Regions from separate parts of the Homo sapiens genome. Here region 1 is reported to be linked to region 2. The links are microRNA targets in miRTarBase. Many come from high-throughput screens and were not tested one by one. Region 2 holds a microRNA gene; the other region holds the end of a gene's coding sequence.

Region 1 (4,385 bases), not on the chromosome of region 2:
AGGGAAGAACTTTGCAAAAAGAAGTCCAATGACAGGGCAGATTTGTCTTCTCCTCAGTGCTCAAGGCAAGGCTGACGGGCTGCCAAGAGGAATTTCTGGCTGGCTGAAGGCTAAGTTCCCTTCCAACTTTGAGATTTCTGCTCAAAGATGGTAAACATACAGTAGTCTCTGCCCTTATCCCTGGTTTCAGTTATCCACTGTCAACACTGGTCTGATTATTTCTGGAATTTTTTTTTTTTTTTTTTTGAGACAGTGTCTGTCACCCAGGCTGGAGTACCGTGGCACGATCTCGGCCCACTGCAACCTCTGCATCCCGGGTTCAAGTGATTCTCCTGCCTCAGCCTTCAAGTAGCTGGGATTACAGGCACCCACCACCACACCTGGCTAACTTGTATTTTTAGTAGAGATGGCATCTCACCATGTTGGCCAACCTGATCTCGAACTCCCGACCTCAAATAATCCACCTTCCTCGGCCTCCCAAAGTATGGGATTACAGGCGTGAACCACCGCACCCAGCTGGAATTTTCTTTTTTTTTTTTTTTTTTTCCTGAGACAGAGTCTCGCTCTGTCGCCAGGCCAGAGTGCAGTGGCACGATCTCTGCTCACTGCAACCTCCACCTCCCGGGCTCAAGCCATTCTCCTGTCTCAGCCTCCCAAGTAGCTGGGCCGACAGGGATGCGCCACTATGCCCAGCTAATTTTTGTATTTTTAGTAGGCAGGGTTTCACCATGTTGGCCAGGATGGTGTCGATCTCTTGACCTCATGATCCACCCACCTCAGCCTCCCAAAGTGCTAGGATTACAGGTGTGAGCCACCGCACCTGGCCTAGAATTTTCTATTTAACAGTTCAGATTTTAAGTTGAGCACCATTCTGAGTAGTATGATGAAATCTTTTGCCATCCTGCTCCATCCATCCTGTCAGGACGTGAACCATCCCTTTGCCTGTTAGTCACTTTAGTAGCCGTGCTGGTTATCAGATTGACCGTTACAGCACTCCAATGATTGTGTTCAAGTAGCCCTGATTTACTCAGTGATGGCCCCGAAGCACAAGAGTATTGTGCCTAATTTAGAAACTAAACCTCATCATAGCTATAGGAAAAAACATAGTATACATAAGGTTTGGTACTATGGGCATCCACTGGGGATCTCAGATCACATCCCCCCCAGATGCGGGCGGACTGCTGTACAATCTGCAGTCCTTCCAGAAAGCATCAAAATGACTACTCAGCTGGGTGTGGTGGCTCACACCTGTAATCCCCAGCACTTTGGGAGGCCAAGGCAGAACTGCTTGAGCCCAGGAGTTCAAGACCAGCCTGGCCAACATAATGGGACTCTGTCTCTTAAAAAAAAAAAAAAAATTGAAAGATTACCCAGTAATACTTGCCATATTTCATAGTAGATACCTGTCTCTCCATCTACACTTCAAATATCCTGAGCCCAGCTGAAGCCTTGCAGCTCCTGCACCACCCCACATCTACCTGCTGAGTGCTCTTGGGACTCCAACCCCGCCCATTTTTAGCATCCAAGTGGCTACCACATAAAGTCCTTTTTTTTTTTTTTTTTTTTAACCTCTTTAATAACCCCTTCTCTCCACCCCACCATGTACACCTATTACCAAGTTCCAAATCTGCATATGCTGGGATTCTTCCCCAATACTGTAGCCTTCACTCTTCCTGTCCTGGTCTCAGCCAGCTTTCTCTGGCTTTGGTGAGAGCTGAAACACCCGTCTACCACTGAGCACCAGCCACTTCCTTAAAATCCTGGAAAGGTGAAATCACCTCCATTTTAGGCAAGGAAACCAAGGTCAAGTCTCCGAGAGAATTCTCAACCTCCTTGAAAAACTACCTCCTCTGGAGCCTGCTGTCATTTCCACATCCCATGCTTCAATCTTCTTGTCCCACCCATAATGCCTAATTTTGCTCTTGCTCCCCAGTAAGCCCAGTTCCCAACCAATCCTCTCCCCTCTTCTCCCACTAACAGCTTCACCTTTACAGCTCTCATCCACAGTCAGCTGCACATCCATCAGGATTTTAATTCCAATGACCATAAACATTCACCCTTCAACATAAAGAGGTGTATGTAATTCATGAGATACTCATATTAGAAATGAAACTTTGAATCACACCTTGAGATGAAGCCAAGTTCAAGATGAGAAAATAGTCACTAGACAGCTGGGTGAGCTATCTATGTAGCAGTTCCAGAGCCAGTCAGGGACAGCATCCTTGGGAACTGTGCCACTGCTGTCCCATCCTGGGAAGCGGACTCCCATCTCACGTGCTTTTAGCCATCCGGTCATCCAGAACCTCAGTCATCAACTACACAACTTCACATGAAGTCTGGAACCCACCTTCAAATGCATGGCACAGGATCCCGATCTGGCTCCCCATCATCCTAGATTTCAAAAACTGGCCACCATTGGTGTGCAATGGAGTGATCTCAGCTCACTGCAACCTCCGCTTCCTGGGTTTAAGTGATTCTCCTGCCTCAGCCTCCCAGGTAGCTGGGATTACAGGCATGTCCCACCACGCCAGGCTAATTTTTGTATTTTTAGTAGAGACAGGGTTTCACCCGAGTTCAAGTGATTCTCCTGCCTCAGCCTCCCAAGTAGCTGGAATTACAGGCATGTCCCACCACATCTGGCTAATTTTTGTATTTTTAGTACAGATGGGGTTTCACCAAGTTGGCCAGGATGGTCTCCATCTCTTGACCTGGTGATCTGCCCACCTCAGCCTCCCAAAGTGCTGGGATTACAGGCGTGAGCCACCATGGCTGGCCACTGGACACGATTTTTACATGGAGGTGAAGGAACAGGTCACAATGCAGCACCTATCAATGCCACAAAAGACTGACAGCTGTCACCCCACTCTAGTCTCCAAGGAGGAAACTCCAGGCAGGTTAAGTTAGTTTAAAATTTTATTTTTTTTATTTATTTTTTAATATTTTTATGTAATAAAAAGTAAAAGTCCTTGTCCAGCCATCCTCGTGGGGCATCTGTCTGTCTCTCACACAGGTCACTCAAGTTAATGGGAAAGAAAGAACAGGGGGCCCAAGTCTGAAGTTATAAATAATAGAAAATAAAAGATCTTCCGTCTCCAGCGGGGGAATAGATGAGAGGATGGGAGGGCAAGACTGGGTGGGGACGGGCAGGGGCAGAGCAGGAACCCCCCACCCCTGCTGGACCCTGGCCCTGCCCTCTGTGAGGCCCCTCCCATTCAAGGTGCTTGGCAGGAATTCCCCAGCTCCCCTGGGGAACGGGGGGATGGGGGGCTGGGAGTGGTCCGAGCTGCTGGGGGAAGAGACATAGATCACTCTTCCCTCCACTCATGGAGGTCTCAGGTCGCGGCCAGGACAATCTTCAGTTCCCCGGGGGGTGGAAGGGGAGCTGCTGGGAGGGATGAGATTGAACTGGTTGGAGGGGAAAGAGAAGAGAGCAGGAGCATTAGAACCCAAGCAGCTGTCCCTTCCTCCAATGCCGTCCAGTGGGGGCGTGGGGGTGTGTCTGGGAAGGAGCGGCCTCCTCAAGGTGTCTCGGGGGCTGTCAGAAGCACAGGTCAATCGCTGTTTCCCAGTAAGCCAGAGCCCTCACTCATGTGCCCAGCTCAGCCCCCCACACCCCAGTCTGGCCCTGTCTGCTGCACTGACCTTACCTCGGCTAAGTCAGGAGACAGTCGGGGTCACTGAGAGCTGGGGAGGCAGTGGGGAGGGGGGCTGCTGGATCACAACTGAGCGAGGACGGAGGGAAGCAAAGGACAGAGCCAGGAGCAAGCCCCTGGCGGCGGCGACTGTGGCTTCTGCCCACCCTACATACTTCACAGACAGGTGCAGGTCGGCGGGCGCCCTGTGGGACAGCCCTGCCTCCAAGACCCCTCACTCCCCACCCAGAACCCGTGCATCCTGCCCCACCTGCAGCCCCTCAGCTCTTCCATGCCAAATTCCCCCAGCTAATGAGAACTCACGAATCCTGTCATCGGCTCCTCCTGGAAATCCAGGCGCCTGGCCAGGCTGCTCACCTTGGGGGTGTCCGATGTAGGGGTAGGGTGAGGGTGTGGAAGCTGAGAGTGCAGGCACCCCACTCTGGGGCACCGCGCCTTGGGGGGGCCCCCCATGACTCTGGGGTGGGTGCAGCAGCATCACCTGGGGCGGGTGGGGAGCCCCAGGGTGAGGGGGCGGGGCTGCTGTGATTCCAGTTTGGACATGGGCCTGTGGAAAACAAAAAAGTAGCCGGGAAGACCACAGAATCCTGAAACAGACTCTGAGAGCCAGAGTTAGGGAGCACTATGGCAAGGGTGGCACCAGGGACTTGGCAATGGGATGGTCCCCATGGCAGACGGGCCCTGGCAAACAGACCCAGAAGTGGGACAGCTGGGCTCTTACCTGGGTAACAT
Region 2 (4,385 bases):
GGCTCAAGAGATCCTTCTGCCTCAGCCTCCCATAGTGTTGGGATTATAGGTGTGAGCCACTGTGCCTGGTCTGAAACTGACTTTGAAAAGGGAAATGTATGGCTTTTGAATTGAGGGATGGAATCTCCTAGCCTGGAGATAATTAAATAAGGCTTAGATCTCCCTCTCTCCCTTCACGCATTTCCTGAATACCTAGAACATGCCAGACACTGGAGCTACAAAATGAATTAAATAAAACATGTCTATCTTTTTCTATCTCCATAATGTTCATGCTGGAAACTGCCCTTTTTCTGTTTCATTGGATCAAGTTCAAATCTTAGCAGGTCACTTGTAACTCTGACTCTGGGCACATTGTGCCACCTTTCTGAGCCCTAGTTTTCTTATGCATACCACGGAGGTGATAATATTCCCCTCATAGGGTGGTGATGGATCATGTGTGTGAGGGGCTGAACAGGTGCCTTTGACAGTGGTTTCTCATTGAGTGGCAGCCACTCTCCGACTGGAAGTTTCTTGAGGGCAGTGACTATGTTTGGTAGATAAATGTGTCCTTGGCACCCAGCCCAGGGACCAGGCATGCAGTACATGAGGGTCGTCAGCCATCCCAATTTTCCTGGGACAGTCTCAGTCTCGCATCTCAGGAAACCCCTCAGCTCACTCCTGGGCAAATCAGGACTGTGGGTCACCCTACAGTATCTTCTCATAAAGATTCGTAGAGTAGGTATATCCACGAATTAAGCAAGCATTAGTGAAGGACAGGAGTAGGACTTGAACAGGCCAGGGCAAGCACTGGGTGGCTGCCTTGGGCGCTGAGAGGAGTCAGCAGAAGGGTCTGGAAGGCCTAGCATGTGGACAGTGGGAGGTAGGGGTGGGGCCATCTGCAGCTTGGCAGGGTGTGGGGAGGACATCAGGCCCTGAGTCTGTAAGGTGACTGCTTTCAAACAGGTTTCAGGCTCCCAAGGGCCATGTGCTCTTCCTCAGACACATCCAGAGAGGGCACGGTTGATTCTCACTTTTTTGATTTCTATTAAATATATTGAGCCCTCAGCTACTCTTCCGCCTTGGTAGCTGGAGGCCTCTTCTTCCTCAACCTACTGAGTCTCAGCGTGCCTGCCCACTGCCTTCTGAGCTGTCCATGCCAGACTGAGATGAGACAGGGCAGAGGCACGGGCTGCGAGATGGGAGAGCAGGGCTGCAGGCTCATTCTCAGGCCCAGCCCCAGACACTGAGTGAGCCTTGGTTTCTCACAGGGTATCTGTGAGTTGTCACGTGTGGAAAGCCCCTTGGCATCTTTAGTATGCAATAGGTGCACAGCAAGTCTCATGTTTTGTCCCCGTCTATAAAAGGGGGACAATAAAGCTTGCCCTGCTCACCTCCAGGACTGTCGTGTGGGCCAAACGGGATGTGGATGTGGGATGTGGGAACATTTGGTAAACTGTATCATACCCTACAAATGTTTGAGGATGGGGTTCTTAATAGGGCAGCCCTTGCCAGCCCAGGATTCCAGGCCCAGGATTCCAGCCCAGGCATGGAAGGCTCCTCTTGGGGTTGTGCCCCAGGATCACAAAGAAATCTGGCAGTGCTGCCCTTGTGAGCAGCAGACCTCCGCAGGCAGGTCCGAGACTCAGCTGAGCTCTGCTTCTTTTTTTTTTGAGACAGGGACAGGGCCTGGCTCTGTTGCCCAGCCTGGAGTGCAGTAGTGTGATCATAGCTCACTATAGCCTTGACTTCCTGGGCTCACACAATCTTTCCTCCTCAGCCTCCTGAGTAGCTGGGACCACAGGTGTTCGCCACCATCCCAGGCTAATTTTTAAATTTTTTGTACAGATGTGGTTTTGCTACATTGCCCAGGCTGGTCTTGAACTCCTGGGCTCGAGCAATCCTCCCGTCTCAGCCTCCCAAAGTGCTGGGATTACAGGTGTGAGCTACCACGTCCGGCCAAGATCTGCTTCTTCTGAAACCATGGCAAGAGAAAGACAGACAGACTTGGACCTACTGCAGGGAGGGTTAAGTAGCAGCGGGACTCCCATCAAGAAGAAGGAATGTCTTCCGGAGCCTCATCTGTCTGTTGGGCTGGAGGCAGGGCCTTTGTGAAGGCGGGTGGTGCTCAGATCGCCTCTGGGCCCTTCCTCCAGCCCCGAGGCGGATTCACCATGAGGCTGATGCAGCTTCAGCTTCCAGCCCTTCACGCTCCAGGGCCCTTTCCAAGGCCTAGCAATGTGTCCATGTGCTCAGGGGTTTTGTGAAATTTGCAAAAGGAAATTATTTTTGTACTCTTTTTTTTTTAAAACAAACAAACAAACAAAAAAAAAACCTTCCAAGCTCTGTAAGCTTTAGGCGCCCAAGCCCAGCTCTGCCCTGCTGTGGCAAGTTTTCGTTTGGGCTAGGATGTTGGTGCCACATCTGCTGCATGTCCTCAGGGGGCTCTCATCCCACAGCAGAGATCTGTCATAGGTTAGAGCCCTCCCTACAGAAGCAACACCTGAAAGGCATCCAGGGGAGCCAGTTCTGGGGCAGGCTGAACCTGCAGCTTCACTTGCCATGTAAATTAGAGACTGGAAAGGCTTCTCTGACTTCAATCTTCCTCTTCTGCAAAATGGAGATAAGACCTTCCTGGAAAGGTTAAAATAATGAACCATAGGTGAAACTGCCTGGTCTAGCCCCAGGCTTGTCCTGGGAGCTCAGGAAATGCTGATGAAAGCTGGATGGAGATGGCTCAGGGGAGCCCATGCCTTTCATTGGGATAGTCTGTCCTGCTGTCTGTCAAATTAACCTGCTGTGTGCCAGGCCTGGTATTAGGCTCTGGGATACAAGCTGCTGGGGTGAGGTGGTCAGACGAATCAAGAGGGTGAAAGTGGTTATAAACTGTGGAGCACGGCTTGCCTGGGAAGGGGCTGTTGTAACCGGGATGGGGCCTTTTTTTTTTTTTTTTTTTTGTTTGAGACGGAGTCTTGCCCTGTCACCCAGGCTGGAGTGCAGTGGTGCTATCTCAGCCCGGGTTCAAGCAACTCTCCTGCCTTGAGTAGCTGGGATAATAGGCACATGCCACCACGCCCAGCTAATTTTTGTATTTTTAGTATAGATGAGGTTTCACCATGTTGGTCAGGCTGGTCTTGAACTTCTGACCTTGTGGTCTGCCCACCTGGGCCTCCCAAAGTGCTGGGATTACAAGCGTGAGCCACCGCGCCCGGCCTGGGATGGGACCTTCTGTGGGAGTGGGGCAGAGTAGAAGTCTGGACAGGCCTTTCCTGCTCCTGGGACTGGGTCAGGAGTCTGGCTGGTCTGGTGCCTGAGGGGAGCTGCCAGGGCAGGCCGAGCTGACCTTTCCTGCTCAGAAAGGAAGCCAGGCTGGCAGGGTGCGGTGCATCCCTCTGCAGAGTCAGGGAAGCGGAGTTTGTTGGCAGCAATGTCTTGCCTTCTGTGCTTCCCTAAGACAGGTGGCTGTGGGGAGGGCTTCGAAGAACAAACATGATGTCCGGCTAGGTTTCAGATCCCACCCCTACTGCTTGTTATGCCTGTGACCTAGAGACGGTTACATAATCTTTCTGAACCTTGGTTTTGTCATCTTTAAAATGGGGGTAATAAAATCCTCTCCTCACCCCCATAGGGTTGTGGTAAGGCTTAAATGAGATAATGCATGGCTTAACACAGTGCCTGGTACACAGTAGGTGCTCAATACATGCTGATTGTCCCTCTCCTGCCCCATGACCCTCATCAACTTCTCTTTTACACTTCCCCGTTTGTCTGTGCCCCCAGTTGGGTGTGGGCTCCGTGGTGGCAAGGACTGATTTTTGTTCACCAATCATTCTATTCCCCAGCCCTGGCACAATGCCTTCAATACACCCTGAACTGGTTGGCAAGAAGCTGCACTGGGCCCAAAGAAAACAGTGTTAAGTTTTAGCTGGAAACCTGCTTACAACACACCTACTGTGTGCTCCTGCCAGAGCACTTACTGTATGGTTTCTGCCCTGCAGAGCTTGAATGGCCACCCACAACTGTGGCTCTGCCCTTCTTGACAAGTGGCTTTGTTTTTTTCTTCAGAGCACTTAGCACCTGCTGTAATCAATTTGGTGAGCGTTGTTGAGTCAAACTCTGTAAAATATTTGAAGATATTTATTCTGAGCCAAATATGAGTGACCGTGGCCTGTGACACAGCCCTCAGGAGGTCTTGAGAACATGTGCCCAAGGTGGTCGGGGTACAACTTGGTTTTATATATTTTAGGAGGCATGAGACATCAATCAAATACATTTAAGGAATACATTGGTTTGGTTCAGAAAGGTGGGACAACTCAAAGCGGTGGGCAGGGGTTGGGGGGAGCTTCCAGGCTATAGGTACATTTTTTTTTTTGAGATGGAGTCTCACTCTGTCGCCCAGGCCAGAGTGCAGT

What was found. The annotated mature microRNA hsa-miR-326 reads CCUCUGGGCCCUUCCUCCAG and lies in region 2 at 2,113-2,132, shown strand. An mRNA with a match to its seed (bases 2 to 7 or 8) in the 3' UTR can be bound and repressed. Matches are read on the target gene's strand: a 7mer-m8 pairs with bases 2 to 8, a 7mer-A1 pairs with bases 2 to 7 and ends in A, and an 8mer does both.
Region 1: the mRNA of ATXN2L is a reported target of hsa-miR-326. The part of its 3' UTR that is shown has no 7-base or 8-base seed match.

What each region holds. Positions count from the first base shown.
Region 1 is chr16:28,835,748-28,840,132 of GRCh38, reverse strand. It overlaps ATXN2L (ataxin 2 like), which reads right to left. Exons shown (of 22, transcript NM_007245.4): 21 at 4,375-4,385; 22 at 2,901-4,200. The coding sequence ends at 3,868. Among named protein-coding and RNA genes, the nearest start is that of MIR4721, 6.1 kb to the left of the region's middle.
Region 2 is chr11:75,332,855-75,337,239 of GRCh38, reverse strand. MIR326 (microRNA 326) reads left to right here and starts at 2,054; the gene lies at 2,054-2,148. The region is part of intron 1 of ARRB1 (arrestin beta 1); the gene reads left to right. RefSeq lists enhancers at 1,482-2,015, 2,016-2,550, 3,619-4,152.